5 separate regions of the Homo sapiens genome follow, and all the other regions are linked to region 1. Evidence: fine-mapped expression QTL. A gene starts in region 1. Each other region holds a variant in brackets. All regions are shown on one strand. Distances are between the middles of the regions.

Region 1 (5,100 bases):
TATGGCTTCCCATTACACATGGTATAAATTCCAACTCAGCATCCTGGTTTACCAAGTCTGGCCACTCTCTGGCCTACCTTTCCAACCCTATCTCACACCATTCTCTTTTTCACCCACAATGCACCAACCACACATTAGCTTCTTTTTTATTTCTCTAACTTGCCAAGCTCAGTCCTGGAAGGCATTTTTTTCACCCTGACATATGCATGGCTAGCTCTTGTTATTTAGATTTCTGGTGATTCGCCTTCGTGGAAAAGGCTTCACTAGCCACTCAAGTAGTTACTATCAGATGGCCGGCCCTATTTTAATTTCCTGTAAAGCGCTTATCACTATTGGATGTTTTTATTTTTCGCTCTATATTCCCCACTAGAAAAAAAATCTCTACGTGGGCATGGGATGTTGCTGCTTCGTTTCCATTGAATTACCAAGGCTTAGAACAATACCAGGGCTTGAAACGCAAAAAAATTCTAAAACTTGTGGAATGACTTAATGAACTCTTGATTCTCACCACTCTTCAGCCCCTCCCCAACTTTCAGGACAGTCTTCCTGAAGGCATTTTGTTTATTAAGCCACTTGATTTCCGTCTATCATTCCCAGTAAAATATAAGCTTCAAGAGCTCAGAGACAGGGTTTGCGTGCATGAGGGCTGTATTCCATGACCAGCATGGTGCCTGATATAAAGTAGGCGGCCGGCAGTCTTTCTGTTAGCTGAATCCATGAATGGGACAATGGGGCTAAATTTACATGGGGGTCGGCCATGCCTGGGGTCTGCGGAACGCACGCAAGATAGGACGAATGGACGCCTCCACTAAAGCAAATACGCGGGCACCAAGTAGACACAGCTCGGCCCGGTGGGGATACTGAAGCCGCCAGACCAAGCTTGGGCTAGATGACGAAACGCTGCACCTGGAGGAGGATCCAGGTCCGCACGCGGTAACTATACTCACGTGGAAGATGCACTCGCGGCCACAGAGCACCTCGAATCGTCGCGCGCGTTTGTTACGTCATCCGCGTGCGCCGCGGGCAGAGACTGGACCTGCCAGCGCCGGGGCGACTACGCCCCGCCCACTTTTCCCCAGCCACCCGGCCGAATTCTAGGTTCTTGGTGGGGAGAGGTTTATCCCCAGGTGGTTTCTCCCACAAATCTGTCTTGAACTGACGTTTGTGAAAATACATTCAGTTCCCCGTCCCCGCGGGGACAGTTAAGTAATGACATCAGTTAGTTAAGGCCATAAAGCAAGCATGTGAAAGTTGTGCTTTGGTGGCATTACGAGGAAGCCCTTCTCTGCTTGGCAAGATCAGGGAGACTGAAAGATGCTTAGAAGTCATCCACCAGGCGGGCTGTGTTTGAGTTCCTGAGCTCTGCTACCCCATCCATCTGAAGGCCTGCGGGATGCCGGACAGGATGTCACTTAGGAGGGAGACGGAGGCTGGGCGCGGTGGCTCCCGCCTGTAATCCGAGCACTTTGGGAGCCCGAGGCGGGCAGATCGCTTGAGCCCAGGAGTTCGAGACCAGTCTGGGCAACATGGCGAAACCATGTCGCTACAGAAAAATACAAAAATTAGCCGGGTGTGGCGGTGCAAGCCTGCGATCCCAGCTACTTGGTGGGCTGAGGTGGGAGGATCGCTTGAGCCCGGGAGGTCGAGGCTGCAGTGAACCGAGATGGCGCCGCTGCACTCCAGCCTGGGCGATAGAGCGAGACCTCGTCTCAAAAAAATCAGAGAGGGCCAGGGGCTGTGTTTCACGCCTGTAATCCCAGCACTTTGGGAGGCTGAGGCGGGTGGATCACCTGAGGTCAGGAGTTTGAGACCAGCCTGGCCACATGGTGAAACCCCGTCTCTACTAAAAATACAAAAAAAAAAAAAAAAAAAAAAATTAGCCGGGCGTGGTGGTGGCAGGTGCCTGTAATCCTAGCTACTCAGGAGGCTGAGGCCGGAAAATCCCTTGAACCTGGGAGGCGGGGGTTGCAGTGAGCCGAGATCGCGCCACTGCACTCCAGCCTGGGCGACAGAACCAGGCTTCGTCTTAAAAAAAAAAAAATCAGAGAAAAGAGACAGGGGTGTCGGGAGTTGGGATGGTGCACCGAGGCGCCTCGCGGAGTCTCTAGGAAGCGAGGGGGTGAGCAGCGAGAAGGAGCTGGAGGTGGCGAGGAAACCCGCTCACCGGTGACGTCACCGAGCGCCCCCCCACCCCCATCCCCACCCCCAAGCGAGCACCTGCCCCTCCCGGGGGCGGAGCTCCGGCGCATCATGGCGGCTGGCCGGGCCCAGGTCCCTTCCTCCGTGAGTGCTGCTATTACGTCTCTTGTTCCTTTTTTCTTGTTTGTCACAGATACTCTTTCTCTTCCTATTTCCTCTGCCTTGTCTCTCTGGGCTCGCTGGCCGCGTCCGGCCCATGGGTGAGGGGGTTGTGAGTCGGTCCGCTCCTACCTCTTACTGGTTCTGCGAATGTTTATTCCCTCATTCACGCGGCGCCCGCTGTGAGCCTTAAACTGGTCTCCGTTCACTCTCTAGGGTTTAATCCTGGTGGGAAACCAGGAGCAGGTTAATGGGGGAACTATGGGGCTGTGGGTTCCTGGAGAAGACCCTTGACGGAGCTGTAGGGGAAAAGGGCAACCATAATAAGTAAAAGCGTCTGAGACCCGAAGTGCGTGTAGAAGGCAAAAAGCGCCGAAAGGGGCTGGGTGTGGTGGCTCACGCTTGTAATCCAGCACTGTGGGAGGCGGAGGCGGGCGGATTACTTGAGGTCAGGAGTTCGAGACCAGCCTGACCAACATGGTGAAACCTCATCTCTACTAAAAATACAAAAATTAGCCGGGCGTGGTGGCGCGCACCTGTAATTCCAGCTACTCAGAAGGTTGAGGCAGGAGAATCGCTTGAACCGGGTAGACGGAGGCTGCAGTGAGCTGAGATTGTGCCACAGCACTCCAGCCTGGGCAACAGAGCGAGACTCTGTCAAAAAAAAAAAAAAAAAAAAAAAAGCGCCGGAAGGGGTTTCAGGACGGAAGCAAACACATATTCAAAGGCAGGAGGATAGAGCAGGTGTCTGAAAAACTCAAAAGTTCAGTTGGGTGGTGGTGGAGGGGTCAGAGCTGACAGTTTTGTACCTCTTGCTAAGCAGCGACTTTAACATGAGGGTAATTGGGTGTGGTGGCACACGCCGGTAATCCCAGCTGCTCAGGAAGCTGAGCAGGGAACCACGGAAGTGGAGGTTGCAGTGAGCCGAGATCGCGCCACTGCACTCTAGCCTGGACGACAGAGCCAGACTCCATCTCAAATAAATAAATAAATAAATAAATAAATAAATAAATAAATAAATAAGATGTTAAGAAAATACAATCTAAAGGATTGGTTTGTGTGCGTGTGTGTGTGTGTGTGTTTTGAGACGGAGTCTAGCTTTGTCACCAGGCTGGAGTGCAGTGACGCGATCTCGGCTCACTGCAACCTCTGCCTCCCAGGTTCAAGCGATTCTTCTGCCTCAGCCTCCCGAGTAGCTGGAATTACAGGCATACAGGCACGCGCCGCCATGCCCAGCTCATTTTTGTATTTTTTTTCTTTTTTTTAAGTACAGACGGTGTTTCACCATGTTAGCCAGGATGGTCTCGATCTCCTGACGTCGTGATCTGCCCGCCTTGGCCTCCGAAACTGCTGGGATTACAGGCGTGAGCCACTGCACCCAGCCAGGACTGGGACCTATGTAGGGAAAGGAAGGAGCTAAGGAGGACATCTAGGTTTCAGGATAGAACAACTGTTTGGTTAAGGGTACTATTTGCTAAGTTAGTGAACATAACACTAGAAGAGTTCTAGAAAAGGACAGGGTTTTGTGGAAAGTTCAGTGTTGGGCATGTGTGCTGCCTGTGGATTGGCCATGGAGAGTCTGGCAGATGGATAGGACTAAAGCTCAGGAATGAGATCTCAGCTAAAGTAGACATACAGGAACAATCATCATCTGGCCATGGCTGTTAAACCCATGCAGTGGTTGAGATAATTGTGGGAAAGCATATTGTGTTCTTAAACTTCAGCCTGTATTAATCTGGATCTTCCTCTTCCTCCCTCCTTTTTTTTTTTTTTTTTTTTTTTGAAACAAGGTCTTACTCTGTCACCCAGGCTAGAGTGCAGTGGCACCATCATGGCTCACTGCAGCCTCAACCTCCCTGGGCTCAAGCGATCCTCCCACCTCAGCCTCCCAAGTAGCTGGGACTACTGGCGTGTGCTACCACGCCAGGCTAACCCAGCTAATTTTGAATTGTTTTAGAGTTTCACCATGTTGCCCAGGCGGGTCTCAACCTTCCCAGGCTAAGGTGATCCTCCCACCTCAGCCTCCCAAGTAGCTGGGACTACTGGCATGTGCTACCACGCCAGGCTAATCCAGCTAATTTTGAATTGTTTTAGAGTTTCACCATGTTGCCCAGGCGGGTCTCAACCTTCCCAGGCTCAGGTGATCCTCCCACCTCAGCCTCCCGAGTAGCTGGGACTACAGGCACGAGCCACCATGCCCAGCTAATTTTTCTTTTTTGTAGAGACGGGTCTTTGCCTTGTTGCCCAGACTAGTAGTGAACTACTGGGCTCGAGCGATCCACCTTGGCCCCCCAGAGTGCTGGGATTACAGGCGAGAGCCACCACATCCAGTCTGCTCCATTTTTACTCAGTAGATGAAAACACGAATTTGCCTTTTTAACAAAACTTAGGTAATTTTACCTTGAAGCCATGGGATCACTTTGAGAGACAGTCGTATTCAGTGCACCAAGCAAAGGATAGGCCATCCGAGAAACAGGAACTACAAAAGAATACTGGGAGAGGAAGACAAAAAGCGTGAGAGTCGGAACTTTGCTTATACTGGTGGGGCAACTCTGAATGGTGATTTGGTCTGCCTTCCACAACTCTGACCATGAATGAGTGTGTGGCTGAAGTGGGCTGAAAGTCAGTGGTAGGGCTGTCCACAAGGATGCTGAAGACATCTAGAACTTGAAGACTTTTTTTTCCTTTTAACTTTTATTTTAGATTCAGGGGGACGTGCGCAGGTTTATTATGTAGGTAACCTCATGTCATGGGGGTTTGGTATAGAGATTATTTCGTCACCCCTGTACTAAGCATAGTACT
Region 2 (5,100 bases), 600 kb after region 1:
CAGGCCCACACTCACGCTCCAAGAACTTGTTGAGCTTCTGAACATGCTGGTCCCAGCTTTCAGTGTCACTGACATTGACAATGACATCAAGGTTCTCAGTCTTGGGGCGAATCATCAAGCCTACAGCCAACAAAGGCAGAAGTTGGGGGTATCTATAAGATGAGGGACTGCACACAGAGGGAAGAAAATGGACACAGGGAACACCAGAGTGGGGACAGCGGTGAATATCTGAGATCGTCTTCATGGGAGGGTGATCTCCTGTGGCTATCTGCCACATGCCCAAATCACACAGCTCCCAACTGCAGTAAATGGGAAGGTGGACAGATTTCAAGAACTTCCAAGCACGTGGGGATTGGGTCATCAAAATCAAACTCCTGGAAGGAACTATGAGTTCCTTCTGGAGGTTTGGGGGCACAAGAGCAGTTAGAGTAGCTGGCAGGGGGAGCCTCCACACTCACCCGGTGTGGCCAGTCGGTCCTGGTACTTGGGGGTATGGTCGGAGACAGTCTGCAGCATCACCCACATGGTGAGGGTGAACATGGCGGTGAGGAACCCATAAAAAACGAGGTAGAAGAGGAGGATAAAGGCTAGGGAGGAGGAAACAGGGTCAGCAGGGCCCAAGGTTCCCACCATAACCTCAACTATCCCCACACACCCCTCTACCCACTCTGAAGTTCTGCACTGGGACTGATCACAGAGCCACAGGGATGTCTTAGAGCCTTCCTCTGGAGGCAAAATGAGACAAACTGGAAACAGGCAGTTGTGTCTGGCTTCTAGCCATGACTCCCAGCCCCCTCCTGGTCCTAGGGCACAGTGAAGCCCGACCTTGTGGAGGTCTGTTATTTTGCCTCCAATTACATTTCCAACTTCTCAACCATGCATAGTCCTGACAAGGCACACATCTGTTACCTCTGCATTCGTACTCATGCTTAAAGCTGTGCTAGCATGGTGCCTTTTAAAGCGGGTACTGGCCACCATTCACAAGCAAACCCTCATACCACCCCGCAGAGACTGGACCCTCAGATTTGAATAGCAACATCTCTCTCCTGGTGCCCTTCAGAAGCCAAACTTTGAACACAGTTCCTGAAATGAAAGACCTAACACTAGCCTAGCTACAAATCTCTCAGAGACGGCTTGTTAGAACCTTCAACAGTCACCCCACCCTCAGTTCACACCCAGCACCCTGGGCAGAGGCAGGGAGGAAAGGCAGAATCTCCCACAGCCTTCCCTTGGTGGGATCTCTCCATGGCTCCCCCGCCTGAAGTAAGGACCCAAGGGCCGGCTGTTCCCACCACCCTGGACTCCCAATCCTTCCATCTCAGAGGACACTTCTTCCATGAAGTCCTCTGGCTCTCCCAAGCATTGCTGGATTCTTCTCATCCCAGGGGCTGGAGTTTGAGTTCCCTGAGGGAATGGATTGCATGGGACCCACTTCGTGTAGGCCCCGAATGGGTGGACTGATGGGGACGGTGCCCAGTGTGGAAAGATTGTAAATCGTGTCACACAGTGTCCTCTGTCCCCTGTGTCTCAACGTCCCAGCTTGACCATCCCTCTTGGAAGAATTCCACCCCTCACCTGCACCTGTGCCGGTCACCAGACCCCCTCCACCCCCCCAACCCCCGACCACTACAGCTCCCTGAGTCCTGCCATGGTCAGCCTGGGGAGGCTTCCAAGTCATCCGACTGTCACAGACACCTGGCTGGCTGATGCACACAAATCACCACAGCGACCACTCCTCCCTCCGTCACCGACATGGGAGCAAAACCTGCAGCCTCGGTAAAACTCATACTATCAGCAGCCCCCCAACCCACAAAGCAGTCCCAGAAGGCTCCCAAGGCCAGGCGGTGGGATACAGACAACTTCCGCCGTGAAGAACCCCCCTAACACACCCCCCAAGACCCGCCCCCTCATGAACGTTCCCAGGGTCCAGGGGGTGGGCACGAGCTAAAAATAGACGGGGCTGCGGAGCTAGTGAGAGCCGGAGGGAGGGAAGGGGCGCTCTTTGGAGGTGGGGGACGCCCGTGTGGAGCGGACAGGCCCCGAGAGGGAGTGTGAGCGCCGGCGCGGACACGCAGGCGGAGCTGGCGACCCCCCGCCCGAGGGGGCTCCGCGGGGGGCGGGAAGGCGGCTGTGACCTACTTTCTCCGCCTCCGCACGGCCAGCCGGGGAGATTAGACTGGCGATTCGGCCCCCTCCCAGCCCAGAGCCCGGCAGGGAGGCTGGACGCCGGGGACCCGGGAGGGGAGCTGGGGCCGCGTCGGCGGGACCCTGCGCCCCCGAGGCGTCGCCCCGCGGCTTTCCCCCGCCCCTTGCGTGCCGGCCCTGCGTACCCCAGCTGGTCCCGGTGCGGCCCATAAACTGGTGCGTCCTCGGGTTCCACACGAACTCCTTCCACTCCTCAACCACCTGCCCGCAGCTCTTCTTCTCTTTCTGGATGACCATCTTGGTGGCGCGGGGCGAGTCCGGGCGCGGGGCGGGGGGTTGCGGAGAAGCGGGGGCGCCGCGCGCTGAAGCCCTCCACACACCCAAAAGCACGGGGAGCGAAGGCGGCGCGGGCAAAGGAGACCCCCCTCAGATATGCAGCTGCTGCAGATTCCGGGGTGCACGACCACGCGCTGCGGGGTGCTGGCAGCGCGGCGGAAGATGCACCGATCCTAGGCCCCCCAACTGCGATGAAAAGGGGTGCTGTCAGAGCAGGGGAGAATAACAAGAGGAAGGGGTATGAATGCAGCTTCACCCCCCACCAAACCGTCTAGAAACAAAACGAAATGGGGTGCAAAAACAGACGGCTACAAAAACCGAGCAGAACGCAGAAAAAAAGCGGGGTACAAAAAGGCAGAGAGAGGTGGGGGAGGGGGCCGCCCCGAAATCCAAGATGCAAAGAAGCTGTGGAACGAAGCTCAAGGCTCGCTCCGCCAAGCGGAGACCACTGCACCGGTGGTGGCTCAGCCGCGGGGGTGGGGCGGGGACGCGCAGCTGGGGGACAGCCAGGGATGGGGGGCCCCCCAGGCGGAGGCTCCGCTCCTCAGCAGTGCGAGGCCCGCGGTCGCCGAGCGCGGTCTTTATA[C/G]TCTGCGGCTCTGGGGGTGCCCGCCCCCTTCCCACCCCCAGAAGCTCCGCCTCCTCGCCACTGGCCCAGGCGACCTCATACATATGTAAATATGGAGAGGTTGGGCCCGCCCCCCTGACTTCTCTTAGGGACCTAGCTGTCTCTCCATTACCCCCACCCCAGGTACTAGACTGGGACAGGGTGGGAGGAAGAGATAGAGGGCGTGTCCGGGCGGAGTAGAGGGAAAGATAACCCCAGAGAAACACAACGGCAGAGAGAGAAGCCGATATATGCTCAAAGGTGGGGGCCCCAGGCAGGGAGTTAGAAAGAGACTAAGATACAGATGCGGCGGAAGAGTCCGGGAGCAGATGGGGCAGAATGTCAGAGGAATAAAGAGCTAGAGATCAAGAAAGAGAGCGAAGAGACCAGCCGGGAGGCTGGCCGAGCCAGGAGGGAAGCTAGGACAGGCCCCGCAGAGATGGATAAAGGCCACCCCCAGAGGGACGTTCCCCTGTTGGGAGCCGCTACCAGTCCCCCAGACGCCTCCTTCTCCAATCTCACAGCCCCTGTCCACACCACCTGGCTCTGTCCACGTGCAGAGGCTTCCCCATCTTCCCATCACGTCTCCCTGAAGCCCTCTCAACACCACATTCCCAGTCCCCAGCACTGCCCTGAGATCCCAGCCCTGCAGCCAGGTCTACTTCGGTTCTCTGCCTCCTGGCACCCCCACCCCCACGTCGGAACTCACCTCCTTATGTGTCTACTTGGGTCAACAAACATTTATTGAGCACCTCTATAGACTGTGTGCTGTAGCCCTGGGGAGGCCAGAGAGGTTACACTGAAGCCACATCTCTCACGGGGCTCACAGTCTAGGGCGGGAGTACACTTGCTCTACATACCACATGTTAAGAATCATTATCTCAAGCCGGGCACGGTGGCTTATGCCTGTAATCCCAGCATTTTGGGAGGCCGAGGCGGGCAGATCACGAAGTCAGGAGTTCGAGACTAGCCTTGCCCACATGGTGAAACCCCGTCTCTACTTAAAAATGCAAAATTAGGCCAGGCGCGGTGGCTCACGCCAGTAATCCCAGCACTTTGGGAGGCCGAGGTGGGTGGATCACGAGGTCAGGAGATCGAGACCATCCTGGATAACACAGTGAAACCCCGTCCCTACTAAAAATACAAAAAAAAAAAATTAGCTGGGCGTCGTGGCGGGAGCTTGTAGTCCCAGCTACTTGGGAGGCTGAGGCAGGAGAATGGCATGAACCCGGGAGGCGGAGCTTGCAGTGAGCCGAGATCGCTCCACTGCACTCCAGCCTGGGCAACAGAGCTTCCGTCTCAATAAAAAAAAAAAAAAAAATTAGCTGGGCATGGTGGTGGGTGCCTGTAGTCCCAGCTACTCAGGAGGCTGAAGCAGGAGAATTGCTTGAACCCGGGAGGCGGAGCTTGCAGTGAGCTGAGATCACGCCATTGCACTCCAGCTTGGGCAATAGAGTGAGACTTCGTCTCAAAAAAAGAGAGAAAAAAAAAATCATTATCTCGGCCAGGCCCAGTGGCTCATGCCTGTAATCCCAGCTCTATAGGAGGCCGAGGCCAATGGATCACCTGAGCAAGGGAGTTCGAGACCAGAGGTCAGGAGTTCAAGACCAGCCTGGCCAACATGGTGAAACTGCGTCTCTACTAAAACTAAAAAAATTAGCCGGGTGCGGTGGTGGGAGCCTGTAATCCCAGCTACTCAGGAGGCTGAGGCAAGAGAATTGCTTGAACCTGGAAGGTGGAGGTTGCAGTGAGCCGAGATTGTGTCACTGCACTCCAGCCTGGACAAGAGCAAAACTCCATCTCAAAAAAATGGTATGCATTGAATGAATGAATGAATGAATGGGAGTTGGGGCTGGCCTCTGAAGGGTAGGTAGTCTTCCAGGACAAAGGAATGAAAGGCACAGAGGTGTGAAGTCAGGAGTAAGCACAGTCTACCCCAGGAGTGGCTGGCTTGGCTCCAGGAGAGAACTAGTCGGAGACTAGTGGGAAAGGAGGTTGGGGACACAGCATGGGTG
Region 3 (5,100 bases), 43 kb after region 1:
TGCCCCCTGAGCCGAAGCCCCTCTGCTCCCTCACCCCCAGCTCCTCATTCAGCCCCACTTCATCCAGATTGCTTTCTCTGTAGCTATGGCTAGTGAGCCCCATTTAGCTCTTAGTCCTGGCAAGCCTTGAATCCAGAAATCTGCCTCCAGTTTCCCCTTACCACTCCCAGCCCTGGTGTCCCCGGCCTGGGCCACGTCTGACCCCAGTTTGCTCCTATCATCTTTTCCAGCTCTTTTATGCCTTTGGCCTGAGGCCTCCTCTGTCTCTTCCCCCAGCCATCCCAACATCCTGCGTCTCTACAACTATTTTTATGACCGGAGGAGGATCTACTTGATTCTAGAGTATGCCCCCCGCGGGGAGCTCTACAAGGAGCTGCAGAAGAGCTGCACATTTGACGAGCAGCGAACAGCCACGGTCCGGGCGGGTGGGCACCTGGGGCGCCAGTAGGGGGCTCGAGGCTGAGGGTGTGCTGCTTGTAGCTGGAGGTCCATCCTTGTCTGATTGCCTGTCGTTGCCCCTCCCAGATCATGGAGGAGTTGGCAGATGCTCTAATGTACTGCCATGGGAAGAAGGTGATTCACAGAGACATAAAGCCAGAAAATCTGCTCTTAGGGCTCAAGGGAGAGCTGAAGATTGCTGACTTCGGCTGGTCTGTGCATGCGCCCTCCCTGAGGTATGGTGGCCTGGGAGGCCAGACCTGGGTGTGAGGCTGGGCCATTAAAACCTCTCCAGGGGCCGTGCACCGTGGCTCACACCTGTAATCCCAGCACTTTGGGAGGCCGAGGAGGGCGGATCACCTGAGGTCAGGAGTTCGAGACTAGATTTGCCAACATGATGAAACCTTGTCTCTACTAAATATACAAAAATTAGCCGGCCATGGTGGCGGACGCCAGTAATCCCAGCTACTGGGGAGGCTGAGGCAGGAGAATTGTTTGAACCTGGGAGGCGGAGGTTGCAGTGAGCCGAGATTACGCCATTGCACTCCAGCCTGTGTGACAGATCGAGACTCTGTCTCAAAAAAAAAAAAAAAAAATGGTTAGAGTGTGGTGCTAATAACCCCAAGGTCGCAGGTTTGATCCCTGTAGGGGCCAATGGTAAAACTTTGGCCAGGCGCGGTGGCTCACGCCTACCAGTCCCAGCACTTTGGGAGGCCAAGGCGGGTGGATCACTTGAGGCCAGGAGTTCAAGACCAGCGGACCAGCCTGGCCAACATGATGAAACCCCATCTTTACTAAAAACACAAAATTTATTAAGCAGACATGGTGGTGCACACTTGTAATCCCAGCTGTTCGGGAGGCTGAGACATGAGAATCACTTGAACCCGGGAGGCAGAGGTTGCAGTGAGCCAAGATCGCCCCACTGCACTCCAGCCTGGACTCTCTCAAAAAAAGCCCGGAGCAGTGGCCTTTTTTCCTCCCACATCACTTTTTAATGGTTTCATAGTATCACATAGTAGCTGATTTATTTAACCAGAACATGCCTGATGGGCATTAGAGATGTCCCCAGTGAACTCCAAATGAACACTGCCCTCATATCAGGGTATCTTATTAAGATATATCCTTCAGTGTGGAGTTGCTGGGCTGTGTGCAGGCTCACCTCTGGGGCTTTGGGATATATCATCACCCCAACCCCACCCCCACTCCAGTGGCCTTGCCTGGCTGGACCTCTCCCCTGGTACATCCCGTGGTCTTTTGGCTCCCAGCCGTCAGGCAGCAGGGAAAGGAGAGTTCCTATGTCACTAGGACCCCTGCCCACGCCCCTTATCCCTCCCAGGAGGAAGACAATGTGTGGCACCCTGGACTACCTGCCCCCAGAGATGATTGAGGGGCGCATGCACAATGAGAAGGTGGATCTGTGGTGCATTGGAGTGCTTTGCTATGAGCTGCTGGTGGGGAACCCACCCTTTGAGAGTGCATCACACAACGAGACCTATCGCCGCATCGTCAAGGTGGGAGGGCGGCCTGGGCTTCGTGCCAGCTGCTGAAGCCAGGAGCTGGGGGGCTGGGGGTGGGCAGAGTGTATTTGCATGGCCCTAAGTAACTCCAAACAGAATGGGTAGTCAAGGAAGATGTAGCCAGGGTGAAACTAATGCAGCCCTTCCATCTCTTCACACCTGCAGGTGGACCTAAAGTTCCCCGCTTCCGTGCCCATGGGAGCCCAGGACCTCATCTCCAAACTGCTCAGGCATAACCCCTCGGAACGGCTGCCCCTGGCCCAGGTCTCAGCCCACCCTTGGGTCCGGGCCAACTCTCGGAGGGTGCTGCCTCCCTCTGCCCTTCAATCTGTCGCCTGATGGTCCCTGTCATTCACTCGGGTGCGTGTGTTTGTATGTCTGTGTATGTATAGGGGAAAGAAGGGATCCCTAACTGTTCCCTTATCTGTTTTCTACCTCCTCCTTTGTTTAATAAAGGCTGAAGCTTTTTGTACTCATGAGTGTAGATGTTTCTAGGTGGAGGCTTTGCTGTGGAGGAAGCTGTTCCCTAGAAGGAGAGCTGGCTCACCCTGAGGAGCCGGGATGAGCATTACTTTGCTATCCCTGGTAACACCCTACCCTCTCAGCTCTGACACCCACCTGGTCAGCTCCCAGCCACCCCAACCCCTACCCCCACTTCCACCTCTACCCTCACTGTCTATTCTTTCCGTTGCTCAGACTCCCACAGCCCAGGGGCACTGGGGGCCCTGGCTCCCCATTGCTACATTGGAACACCAGCCATCTCTGGCCACCTTCTTTCACCTCTCTCTTGGTTGTCCAACTTCTAGTTTTTCCTTTTCTGTTTCATTCTCTGCCCCTTTGCCAACGTAGGAGCAACTAAACAGTTCTGTACCCTAGAAGCTGTCTTTGATTATTTCACTGCTCTGGTCAGGATCTAGTACAGGAGCCAATAGAAGCAGCAGTGATTCTGTCTTGTTCCTGACATGAGGTTACACTGTTATGCATGATGCTTGCTGTAGGTTTTTGATAGATACCCTTTATCAGGTTAAACAGGGCCTATTCTACTCATAGTTTACTCAGAGTCTTTAAAAAAAAAA[AC/C]AAAAACAAAAAAACAGTTAAGTCTGGGCGCAGTGACTCATGCCTGTAATCCCTGCACTTTCAGAGGCCGAGGCAGGCAGATCACAAAGTCAGGAGATCGAGACCATCCTGGCCAACATGGTGAAATCCCATCTCTACTAAAAATACAAAAATTAGCTGAGCGTGGTGGTGCACACCTGTAGTCCCAGCTACTCAGGAAGCTGAGGCAGGAGAATCGGTTGAACCCGGGAGGTGGAGGCTGCAGCAAGACCAGATCGCACCAATGCACTCCAGCCTGGCTACACAGCAGGACGGAGTCTCACCCTGTCATGCAGGCTGGAGTGCAGTGGCCCGATCTTGGCTCACCGCAACCTCCAACCTCCTTTCAGGTTCAAGCTATTCTCCTGCCTCAGCCAGCCAAGTAGCTGGGATTACAGGCGCACGCCACCAAGCCTGGCTAATTTTTTTGTAGTTTTAGTAGAGATGGGGTTTCACCATGTTGGCCAGGCTGCTCTCGGACTCCTCACCTCAGGTGATCCACCCTCCTCGGCCTCCCAAAGTGCTGGGATTACAGGCGTACCACGCCTGGACAAGTTTTTTTTTTTTTTTTTGAAACAGAGTCTTGCTCTGTCGCCCAGGCCAGAGTGCAGTGGTGTGATCTCAGCTCACTGCAGCCTCCGCCTCCCGGGCTCAAGTGATTCTCCTGCTTCAGCCTCCCGTGTAGTTGGTATTACAGACATGTGCCACCACTCCTGGCTAATTTTTGTATTTTTAGTGGAGACCGGGTCGGGGTTTCACTGTGTTGGCCAGGCTGGTCTTGAACTCCCGACCTCAAGCAATCTGCCCACCTCGGCCTCCCAAAGTGCTGGGATTACAGGCGTGAGCCACTGCGCCTGGCAGGATTGATTGATTTTTTTTTTTTTTTCTTAATTCATTGCTTTACACCAAGCCTCTAGAACAGTACCCGGAATGTAGAGGACACTCAGTAACTACTGTCAAATGAATAAATCTAACCAAAATTATGGTGGCAGTGGGGTGGAAGAGTGAATTCCTTGAATTTTATAGCAGGAAAAAAACAGGTCATGCCTAAAACTGAAAACTTAAGAAGCAGCAACGGAAGCATGTGATTTAAAAACGTATGGTAGGGGCTGGGCGTGGTGGCTCAGGCCTGTAATCCCAACACTTTGGGAAGCCAAGGCAGGTGGATCACCTGAGGTCAGGAGTTCGAGACCAGCCTGACCAACATGGTGAAACTCTGTCTCTACTAAAAAAATACAAAATTAGCCGGGTGTGGTGGTGCACGCCTGTAATCGCAGCTACTTGGGAGTCTGAGGCAGGAGAATTGCTTAAATCCGGAAGGCAGAGGTTGCAATGAGCTGAGATCACGCCATTGCACTCCAGCCTGGGCAACAAGAGCAAGACTCCTTTTGAAAAAAAAAAAAAGAAATCTGTACTTGTACACCCTGAGAACGTAAAAATTAAAAAAATAAAAATAAAATATACGTGACTGTTGTTTAACAACTTAAAAAAAATGTATGGTAGGCCAGGCTCAGTAGGCCATGCCTGTAATCCCAGCACTTTAGGAGGCCAAGGCGGGCGGATCACGAGGTCAAGAGATCAAGACCATCCTGGCCAACATGGTCAAACCCTGCTTCTACTAAAAATACAAAAATTAGCTGGGCATGGTGGTGTGTGCCTGTAGTCCCAGCTACTAGGGAGGCTGAGGCAGGAGAATCTCTTGAACCCGGGAGACAGAGGTTGCAGTGAGCCGAGGTCAAGCCACTGCACTCCAGCCTGGCGACAAAGTGATACTCCGCCTCAAGAAAAAAAAAAGTATGGTAAATACCCAAAGCAAATCAAAATAAAACAGTGAAAAGACTTGGAACTGGCTATCTCTAGGGAGAAAGAAATGGGCGGGGTGCTTATTTATTTTTTATTTTTTGAGACGGAGTTTTGCTTTGTCACTCATGCTGGAGTGCAGTGGCACAATCTCAGCTCACTGCAACCTCCACCTCCCAGGATCAAGCGATTCTCCTGCCTCAGCCTCCCGAGTAGCTGGGATTACAGGCATGTGCCACCACGCCCAGAT
Region 4 (5,100 bases), 34 kb after region 1:
AACTTTCTATCTTTTTTTTTTTTTTTTGACGGAGTCTTGCTCTGTTGCCCAGGCTGGAGTGCAATGGCACGATCTTGGCTCACTGCAACCTGTGCCTCTTGGGTTCAACGGCTCTCCTGCCTCAGCCTCCTGAGTAGCTGGGACTACAGGTGCCCACCACCACACCTGGCTAATGTTTGTATTTTTTGTAGAGACGGGATTTCGCCATGTTGCCCAGGCTGGTCTGGAACTTCTGGGCTCAAGGGATCTGCCCACCTTAGCCTTCCAAAGTGCTGGGACTACAGCCATGAGCTGCTGTGCTCAGCTTAGCCTCTTTTGTTTATACTGTTTTCATGGTTTCCATGAAATAAAATATCAGTACTTCATTCCTCTTAGGACTAAGTAAGTTTCTATTTTATGGATATATGACATTTTGTTTATTCATTCACCAGTTGATGGACATTTGGGCTGCTTCCAACTTTTGGCTGTTGTGAATAACGCTGCTTCTGAATATTTATGATACTTCCTTTCAATTCTTTTTTTTTTCTTTTTTTTTTTTTTTTGAGATGAGTCTTGCTCTGTCACCCAGGCTGGAATGCAGTGGCATGATCTCAGCTCACTGCAACCTCCACCTTCCAGGTTCAAGAGATTTTCCTCCCTCAGCCTCTGGAGTAGCTGGGATTATAGGCACCCACCACCACACCTGACTAATTTTTGTATTTTTAGTAGAGATGGGGTTTCACTATGTTGGCCAGGCTGGTCTCGAACTCCTGACCTCATGATCCACCCGCCTCGGCCTCCCAAAGTGCTGCGATTACAGGCGTGAGCCACCGTGCCTGGTCCACACCTTCTTTTTAGGGATTATTTGTCATTAATATTTAATCCTGCAAACAGTTCCATGACTCTATACACCTTCTAAAAAATTAGAACATTAAAGGCAAAACTTAAGTCCCCTTTGATGACCAACCATCTCTGCCTGCTCCCTCCTCTCCACAGAAGAGACAATGGCAATGCAAATACATGAGGTATATTTCACTACGTTGATGTGCCGGCAGTTAAAGGTAAATTGATAGATTAAAGAAGCAAATTGGTGTAACCAAGTCCAAACTTGTTCTGAGGCTGCAATGAGCTATGATTGTGCAGCAAGAGTGCTTGCCTCGGACAAAAGAGACCTTCTCTTAAAAAAAAAAAAAAAAAAAGGCCAGGTGCAGTGGCTCATGCCTGTAATCCCAGCACTTTGGGAGGCCGAGGTGGATGGATCACAAGGACAGGAGTTCGAGACAAGCCTGGCCAATGTGGTGAAACCCCATGTCTACTAAAAATAAAAAAATTAGCTGGGAGTGGTGGTGGGTGCCTGTAGTCGCAGCTACTCGGGAGGCTGAGGCAGGAGAATGGCGTGAACCCGGGAGGCGGAGGTTGCAGTGAGCCGAGATCACACCACTGCACTCCAGCCTGGGCGATAGAGCGAGTCTCTGTCTCAAAAAACAAACAAACAAACTGTGTGTGTGTGTGTATATATATATATATATATATATATATCTTATCTTACCTCTTTCCTGTCTGTCCTGAAGCTGGCCATAAATAAATTCTCTGAACAATCTTGTTCAATTATAGGTCATAAGACCCCCATTTCAGAAGGTGGAAGGAATACTGCACAGAGAAGCCGGGAAGAATCTAGACAGGCCTTGCTGGGCTTCCCCACTCAGCCTATTAGTACTAGATCATACCCTCTTCGTCCAATCACATTTCTACACAGTCGTCATGCTTCAATCACACCTATTTAATGAAGTCTCCATAAAAGACCCAAGAGGATGGGGTAGAGAGAGCTTCCTGAGAGCTGAACCCGTGGAGCATCCTGAAGGGCGGCACACCTCAGAAGGGCATGGAAGTTCCATGCCCTTCCCACCTCCTTGCCCCGTGCATCTCTTCATCTGTATCCTTGGTCATATCCTTTATAAGGCCGGGCACGGTGGCTCACGCCTGCAATCCCAGCACTTTGGGAGGCCAAGACGGGTGGATCACGAGGTCAGGAGTTCGAGACCAGCCTGGCCAACGTAATGAAACCCCGTCTCTACTAAAAATACAAAAATCAGCTGGGCGTGGTGGCGAGTTCTCCTGCTGAGGCAGGAGAATCACTTGAATCCGGGAGGCAGAGGTTGCAGTGAGCCGAGATTGCACCATTGCACTCCAGCCTGGGTGGCAGAGAGACTCCATCTCAAAAAAAAAAAAAATCCTTTATAATAAACCAGTAAACATTTTTTCCTGAGTTCTGTCAGCCACTCTAGCAAATTCATTGAACATAAAGAGGGAATCGTAGGAACCC[T/C]AGCTTACACCCAGTTAGTCATGAGTACAGGTAAAAACAACCTGAGGCTTGCAGTTGGCATCCAAAGTGAGGGGCAGTCTTGTGGGACTGAGCCCTCAACCTATGGGATCTGATGCTCTCTCTGGGTAGATAGTGTCAGAATCTAATCGGAAGACACCCAGCTGATGTCTGCTGCAGAACAGATTGCTTGATTGCAGAACTGATTGCTTGGTGGTGCAGTAAAATCTCCACACATGTGGTCGCAGAAGTCTCCTGTGTTGATTGCTGTGGTGTGAGGGCAGAGGAAAAATTGGGTCTTTTTTTGTTTTTGTTTTTTTTAGACAGACTCTTGCTGTGTTGCTCAGGCTGGAGTGCAGTGGCGTGATCTCGGCTCACTGCAACACTCCCAGGTTCAAGCAATTCTTGTGCCTCACTCAGCCTCCTGAGTAGCTGGGACTATAGGCACCCGCCACCGCAACTGGCTAATTTTTTTTTTTTTTTCGAGACGGAGTCTAGCTCTGTCACCCAGGCTAGAGTGCAGTGATGCGATCTCAGCTCCCTGCAACCTCCGCCTCCCAGGTTCAAGCGATTCTCTTTCCTCAGCCTCCCAAGTAGTTGGGATTACAGGCGCCTGCCACCACATCCAGCTAATTTTTGTATTTTTAGTAGAGACGGGTTTCACTGTGTTGGCCAGGCTGGTCTCGAACTCCTGACCTCGTGATCCACCCACTTCAGCCTGCCAAAGTGCTGGGATTACAAGCATGAGCCACCGCGCCTGGCCAGAACTGGCTAATTTTTTGTATTTTAGTAGTAACGGGGTTTCACCATGTTGCCCAGGGTGGTCTTGAACTCCTGAGCTCAGGCAATCCACCCTCCTTGGGCTCCTGAAGTGCTAGGATTACAGACATGAGCCACTGCGCCCTGCCCATTTTTTGTTTTTATTGAGACAGGGTGTCACTCTAATGTCGGGGCTGGAGTGCAGTGGTGCAATCATGGCTCACCACAGCCTTGACCTCCGGCCTCTGCTGATCCTCCTGCCTCAGCCTATCAAGTAGCTTGGACTAGAGGCACACACTACCATACTGGCTAATTTTTTTTTTTTTTATTTGTAGAGACGGGGTTTCACAGGTTGCCCAGGCTGATCTTAAACTCCTGGGCTCAAGTGATACAGCCGCCTTAGCCTCCCAAAGTGCTGGGATTACAGGCGTGAGCCGCCAAGCCTAGCCATGGTTTGTTTTTTCTACACAATATGCTTAAACAGCAAATAGCATTTAGAATGCATTCAGAAAGGATATTAGCTGAATAATAATCTTCTCTATTGTTCATGTAAGAAAAGTGCTAACGTAGGCATGTAGAGGCTCAACAATGTCATCAAGTCCTGAAGTTCTTTCCAGGCCTCTCTTCTGCCTTCTGCAATGTTAGGCTTCAATGTCAAGCTGCTTCCTTCAGTAGCACTAGAAGCAGCAATGAGGGCTGCATGCTTCCCTGCTCACTTCCAGAAATCTCTTCCTCCATACCTTGCCCTATACATCTTTTCATCTATATCATTTGTAATACACTTTATGATAAACCAGTAAACGTTAAGTGTTTCCTTGAGCTGCCCAGCATTCTGAGCAAGAAACTGATTCCCACTAGCTGGCCCACTTAAATCACAGGCTTATGCCTGATCCAATAACCATAATCTGGAATAAAAGGTATTGATTAGTATAAGTTAATTGGGGCTCATTTCTGGACCTGCAATGAAGTCAGTTTCCTTCTCAAATCCTCAAAACTCTAAGTGCTTTCAGAAGTGGGAATAAAGCTGGGCGCAGTGGCTCACGCCTGTAATCCAAGCACTTTGGGAGACCAAGGCGGGCGGATCACCTGAGGCCAGCCTGAGCAATGTGATGAAACCCCGTCTCTACTAAAAATACAAAAATTAGCCGGGCGTGGTCACATGCACCTATAATCCTAGGTACTCGGGAGGCTGAGACAGGAGAATCAGTTGCACCCTGGAGGAGGAGGTTGTGGTGAGCTGAGATTGTGCCATTGCACTCCAGCCTGGGCAACACAGCGAATCTTCATCTCAAAAAAAAAAAAAAAAGTGAGATTTAAATAGGTCTTCATCAACCTAGGGATTTGGGGTTGTCAGCAACAGAAACTACTACAGAAACCGACTGCATAGACTGGAGAGACAGGTGGTCCCCTAAAGGAAAAATAGAGTGTTAGAAGAAAGGAGAAGAGTGCTGGACAGTACATACTTAATAAATATCCACTGGTTATTTCATAGAAGGCCCAAAAATGTATTTATTTAACCCAGTAATGAAATCTGAGGGTTAGGAAGAGCAGAAAAGAAGGAAGTGTGGCAGGAAGGAGGAAAAATGAAAGTGGGCCCAAACAACACGGCAGCTAACAGAGATCTTGCAACGAAAGGTCTATTGGTGGAAAAACTCCTCCCAGGAATGTCAGAACTTTTAAGAACGACATAGTAATGACACAAGAATAAACACACAGGCAAATGAGCAAACAACGGAATACAAAGTCTAGAAATAGACACAAGTAAATATGCTAACATTATATATCAAGGGCAGCATTTAAATTCTGTTGGGGCAGTTTGTTTAACAAATGGTGTTGACATAACTGGCGCTCCATCGGGCAGAGAAGTTAGACCCCAGCTCATACATGCATAAGGATAAACTCCAGTTACATTAAAGATTTAATTTTTTTTATAAAAAGAAGAAGGCCGGGCACGGTGGCTCACGCCTGTAATCCCAGCATTTTGGGAAGCCGAGGCGGGTGGATCACCTGAGGACAGGAGTTCGAGACCAGATTGGCCAACA
Region 5 (5,100 bases), 26 kb after region 1:
AAAGGCTGGGCTAACTTCTGCTGCCCTTCCCCACTGTCTGTCCAGGGGAACCTGGGAAAGACAAATAGGAGCTGAATCCTTCACTGAAAGCCCCGTCATCGTATCTATGGGTTGGGCATTAGGAACGGCCTGGCCCCACAAATCACACAACTGGGGTGTAGAACAAAATGGTTCCACAGATGACACCAGGCTGGTCCAGGGCCGATGCAGGCCAGAACCCCGCTGGGAGGACTCCCCAGAACAGGCACTGAGCTGAGGAAAGGCAGGACACGTGGTCTGCTACCGACCCCACCAGATCTTGCTGGGACTCTGGGCAGCTCCGGAGTAAGAGCAGCATGGTGAGTGTTTAAGAGCGCAGAGGCTCACTGGGCAGTCCCGGGGACACTGCTAAGTCCCCAAACCGGGTCTACAGGCCTTCGACCACATTCATGCGGCCACGTGCCTCAGAGCCTTCGGGGGGTCTTAGGAGGCAGGCAGGAGGGTCTCCCTTCTAGGCCATTCTAGGAGGGGACTGGGGAGCAGAGGTTAGACTGTAGGGTAGGGGTAACCTGATCTTACAGTCCGGAAGCCATGAGACTAGTCGCCTGGCCTTGCGCCCCGCCCCACTGCAGGGTGGAAAGCCTGTCCCCCTCCAGTCACCCAGCTCAATAACGCCCTCTTCCGTGGGTCTTCTGGGCCCCAGAAATCGTTCCCTCTTTCCCTCGCTTGGGTACTGCCATGCGGTCTGGGGAACCCGTGGACTATCGATGGGTCTGGCCCAGGGTTTGCCCTGCCCGTTAGCCCAGGAGGATAGACAGACACGGGGCACTGGTGTTCCCCTAGTGATTTCTCCTGCCCGTCCCGAAAGCAAGCAATTCCACCGCTTCTCTTCAAAGCTCTGCAACGAAGAGCTAGGTCCAAGGACCGCAGGCGGAGGCAGGAAGTGTCAAGATCCCAGGTTACGGAATGGCACCAAGTCGGTAACCAAAGGAAGCAACAACCCGGGTGTTCAAGGCAGTCGTGCAAGGCGGCGCGGGGGCGAGGCCGAGGCCACTCCCTCCCACTTCCTTGACGCTATTTCCTGGGAGGAGCCGGAGCTCGCGGCCCGGAGCCAAGAGATTCCCAGCCCAGTGCTCCAAAATACTCGGCCTGGGGGAGGCTGGTCCGTGAGCGTGCGCCCGGACCGTTCCGCCATGCATAGTGGACCCAGCACTACAGCAAGCCTGGCACGACCTCTAAGGCGGTTCGCGGCAACGTCCGCACGTCGGCTCGTTGGTCTAGGGGTATGATTCTCGCTTCGGGTGCGAGAGGTCCCGGGTTCAAATCCCGGACGAGCCCTCCTTTACCTTTTACTGAGACAAGAGTGTCTTCAAGGAATAGGTTACCTGACCAGCGCTGCAGGAGGCTTGACTGTAAGTCATCAATGTACAGTAAGCTCTTTTGTGGCACCGCGGTAGCAGAAAGCATCTCAATCCCCAGACCCGCCTGGCATGTCAGGAAGAGACGAGGCACGCCCAGACTTGGGCAGGTCCCTCCCTTTCTGCTTCCTGACTTCCTTCCTGGTGTCTCAACTCGGCCACCACAGCCTGGTTTCGCTTTGATTGACACGCGTCAATCTATAGTTGTGGATGACAGTGTTCGGGAGAGCCCAGGAACTGTCAAAACTTGGTTCTCTGCAGTCCTGAAGGCACTCTGTCTCTTTCGGTCACTCCATCTGACGATTGGTGCCTGAAATACACCTACGGTTTCTGGTCAGCGTTTATCAGTGGTTGGAAGAACAGAACCCCTAGGAACCCTGCTGTCAGCACGCAGAGTGTAAAGTCTCAGATCAAGGATTCGGAGAAAGGTCTCTACAGGTCCCTCCTCGTTAGTATAGTGGTGAGTATCCCCGCCTGTCACGCGGGAGACCGGGGTTCGATTCCCCGACGGGGAGAGTACTAGCAGTTTTGAAACTTCTATCTTTTTGCTTTCATTAAATCCGTCCTGGTCCCTGGGATGGAGCTATAAAAAAGAGGGAAAGGAGGAGGGGAGGAGAGTTTGGCCTTCCTCTCCAGCTCGCATTCTAAGTTTCCATTTTACTTCAAGCAACTTAGAGTTCAAACGTGTACCTAAAGTGGCCATTATCTGCTCTGCTCAGTATGCTCATTAGCGCTCAGACTTGGCCTAGCTTGCTCCCTCCTTGACGGAAGTGCGCATTTCCAGTCTCTGCTTGAACCTGGGCAAGTAGCTTTGGCCCCCAGCCGTCCAGGGTGCAGAGCCCGGGCTTTTGTTTCCTTTCGCCTCCCTGCTTTTTGTGGATTCGCACTGCGATCCGGGAACAGTAGGCAACCCCGGGCCGAGATTCCGACGCGCTGCTCTCGCCTGGAGGGGCTTGCAGGGCGCATCCGTCAGGAGCGCGGTGGTCCAGCCGTGGTCGCGGGTGTAGCGGAAAGTGGGTCCTTTCGGAGCGGAAGTTTCCTCAGGAAAACCTCACGAAAACCCTCAACGATGCTGGGGCCCAGAAAACACGAAAAGGAAAAGGCGGGGGGGGGAAAAAACACCCAAAACGACTTGCGTTGGCCGGGAATCGAACCCGGGTCAACTGCTTGGAAGGCAGCTATGCTTACCACTATACCACCAACGCTCCGGTGCTAGCTCTCTTTCCTGGTTTTCATACCTCAGGTTGGTTGGGATGAGTCGGGTTGGACCCGTGCGGATCCAGGAAAACAGCGATCGAGGTAAAAGTAATGGCTGCCGTCGTCTGCCCAGCGCGCAATTGTGAGTGACCTTCACCGCTAGCGCGCGCCACCCACCCCACATGAACCTGTAGGGTTATGCCCAGTCTACAGACGAGGAAACCAAGATCCAGGGAAGCTGAGTCACCGGCAGAGCTGGGATTACGTCTAAGATTTGTCCAGGGGGCGAGAACTGCAGCGACACCATGAT[T/GATT]TATCATCTCCAGAAAACAAAAAAAAAGGCCTAGACACATAAAAATGGCTTCTCTGTAGAGTGAGCTCAACGAGCTCAATGTGATTCCAGTTAAGGAATTGGGCCTTAAGCCAAATGCGCCTAAACGCAACTTGCCTCTCTATTATTTATCCAGAGGATGAATTTAATTCCTACGTACATGCGCCCACATCTCGTCAGCTGGTGCCTCAGAGAAATGCGCTGACAAATCTTAAAGGTGGGGCTTCATGACAAAAGTCCGCCCGTTATTGCTGCTCAACAGACCCATCAAGTCACGCTGTTGGACAGGCCTCGTGGCGCAACGGTAGCGCGTCTGACTCCAGATCAGAAGGTTGCGTGTTCAAATCACGTCGGGGTCAAACAAAACATTGTTTTCCCTAATCAAATAGACCTACGGTGACATTTTTCAGGATAGGAAAAAAAAAAAGCCTCCTCAGTAGAAGGATAGGAGGGGAATGAGACAAATATGAACGTTATTCAGAAGTTGGGTGCAGACTTTCAACATTATGTGATATATCCCTGTGGCAAAACTGCGCATGTATCCCTAAGGTCTATAAAAGTAAAAATAAATTTAAAAATAAAAAAATTCCCTGTTGTATGGAAATTGTTAAATAATTTTTTAAATTATTATTTTTTGTTTGTATTTTTTTTTCCCTTGAGACGGAGTTTCTCTCTTGTTGCCCAGGCTGGAATGCAATGGCACTATCGCGGCTCACCGCAACCTCCGCCCACGGGTTCAAAGGGATTCTCCTGCCTCAGCGTCCCGAGTAGCTGGGATTACAGGCATGCACCACCACGCCCGGATAATTTTGTATTTTAGTGGCGTGAGCCACTGTGCCCGGCCTTTTTAAATGTTTTTAATAATCTCTGCTGTTCTAGGTATGTTTACTTAACACTGAACACAAGGATATTAAATACAAATATTACCTTTCTCCAGACTTCCCAGCAGTCACTAGAAGCCCAGGACCACGTGCATTTTGGCTGCTTCCAGTATATTGAAAAACAAAACCGGTGGGATGGGATGGCTCACGCCTGTAATCCCAGCACTTAGGGAGGCCCAGGCGGGCAGATCACGAAGTCAAGAGATCAAGACCATCCTGGCCAACTTGGTGAAACCCCGTCTCTACTAAAAACTACAAAAATCAGCTGGGCGTGGTGGCGCATGCCTGTAGTCCCAGCTACTTGGGAGGCTGAGGCAGGAGAATCGCTTGAACCCCGGAGGCAGAGGTTGCAGTGAGCGGAGATTGGCACCACTACACTCCAGCCTGGCGACAGAGGGACACTCTCTCTCAAAAAAAAAAAAAAAAAAAGAAAGAAAGAAAAAGAAAAAGAAAGAAAGAAATCCAGGCCACCCACCCTATATGCCTTGTCTTTTCCAATGGGAAATTTATTCCCTTCACCTCTCTCTCCTCCACTAACAATACCTTTCTAAGTGTGACTGGCTTTGGTTGATGGGGAAGAATTTGGGCCATCTCACCACCATCCACACAGCAGACATTGCCCAGGTTAAAATCTGTGCTCCGCTTTCCTTCCCCTTTCTTGCCCCTGCCCACCTTCTGCCATAGCTGTCTCTGTGTCACTGTATCACTATGTACAAGACAAAGGCAGACAGTTGACCAGTCCTTGCAGAAATGGTGCTTGAAGAACTGCTGATGACCTGAGCAAGGTAACAGCATAGAAACTCTGGCGACCTAAGGCGGAGCTGGCTGTGAGGCTGGCTACCAAGCAGTCCCACCACCATTCTCACTGCCAGGGCAACCAGAAAACCTTGCCTGCATTAATTATTTCATAAGGAGATGCAAAATGATCATTTCCTAATTCTATCATTTTGTGTACATTTATTAGCTGAAACACACACACAGATATATTCGTAACAAAATAAAGAAGAAATACAGCCAGGTGTGGTGGCTCACGCCCGTAATCCCAGCACTTTGGGATGCCGAGGTGGGCAGATCACCTGAGGTCAGGAGTTTGAGACCAGCCTGGCCAACATGGTGAAACCCCGTCTCTACTCAAAATACAAAAAAAATTAACCAGGCATGGTGGCACATGCCTGTAATCCTAGCTACTTAGGAGGCTAAGGCAGGAGAATCACTTGAGCTTGGGAGGCGGAGGTTGCAGTGAGCTGAGATCATGCCATTACACTCCAACCTGGGCGACAGATTGACGCTCCGTCTC

What was found. PIP is the estimated chance that this variant, and not a neighbour inherited with it, causes the effect.
Region 2: its variant is fine-mapped to the expression of CTC1 in spinal cord (GTEx, PIP above 0.99).
Region 3: its variant is fine-mapped to the expression of CTC1 in naive CD4 T cells (Schmiedel 2018, PIP 0.92).
Region 4: its variant is fine-mapped to the expression of CTC1 in whole blood (TOPMed, PIP 0.98). The same link has a PIP of 0.9 or more in tibial nerve.
Region 5: its variant is fine-mapped to the expression of CTC1 in monocytes after R848 (Quach 2016, PIP 0.95).

What each region holds. Positions count from the first base shown.
Region 1 is chr17:8,245,187-8,250,286 of GRCh38, reverse strand. It overlaps CTC1 (CST telomere replication complex component 1), which reads left to right and starts at 2,231. Exons shown (of 23, transcript NM_025099.6): 1 at 2,231-2,283. The coding sequence starts at 2,251. PFAS (phosphoribosylformylglycinamidine synthase) reads right to left here and starts at 998. Exons shown (of 28, transcript NM_012393.3): 1 at 948-998. RefSeq lists enhancers at 814-1,570, 1,695-1,814, 2,295-2,434 and a silencer at 2,155-2,204.
Region 2 is chr17:7,648,861-7,653,960 of GRCh38, reverse strand. ATP1B2 (ATPase Na+/K+ transporting subunit beta 2) reads right to left here and starts at 3,035. Exons shown (of 7, transcript NM_001678.5): 1 at 2,331-3,035; 2 at 459-587; 3 at 16-120. The coding sequence starts at 2,442. RefSeq lists enhancers at 2,465-3,107, 3,382-3,882, 3,883-4,383 and a silencer at 2,976-3,125. The variant C/G (reference allele first, on the strand shown) is at 3,068.
Region 3 is chr17:8,202,065-8,207,164 of GRCh38, reverse strand. It overlaps AURKB (aurora kinase B), which reads left to right. Exons shown (of 9, transcript NM_004217.4): 6 at 277-415; 7 at 526-674; 8 at 1,775-1,949; 9 at 2,121-2,431. The coding sequence ends at 2,294. Among named protein-coding and RNA genes, the nearest start is that of AURKB, 6.0 kb to the left of the region's middle. RefSeq lists an enhancer at 2,966-3,466. The variant AC/C (reference allele first, on the strand shown) is at 3,032.
Region 4 is chr17:8,211,000-8,216,099 of GRCh38, reverse strand. No RefSeq gene overlaps it. Among named protein-coding and RNA genes, the nearest start is that of AURKB, 3.0 kb to the right of the region's middle. The variant T/C (reference allele first, on the strand shown) is at 2,303.
Region 5 is chr17:8,219,050-8,224,149 of GRCh38, reverse strand. It overlaps LINC00324 (long intergenic non-protein coding RNA 324), which reads left to right and starts at 107. Exons shown (of 3, transcript NR_026951.1): 1 at 107-338; 2 at 876-1,857; 3 at 2,641-3,520. TRW-CCA1-1 (tRNA-Trp (anticodon CCA) 1-1) reads left to right here and starts at 3,210; the gene lies at 3,210-3,281. It overlaps TRG-TCC3-1 (tRNA-Gly (anticodon TCC) 3-1), which reads right to left and starts at 2,602; the gene lies at 2,531-2,602. It overlaps TRD-GTC2-11 (tRNA-Asp (anticodon GTC) 2-11), which reads left to right and starts at 1,841; the gene lies at 1,841-1,912. It also overlaps TRP-CGG1-3. RefSeq lists enhancers at 324-563, 814-943, 490-1,231, 1,554-1,753, 2,134-2,273 and 2 more and silencers at 1,294-1,343, 1,804-1,873. The variant T/GATT (reference allele first, on the strand shown) is at 2,905.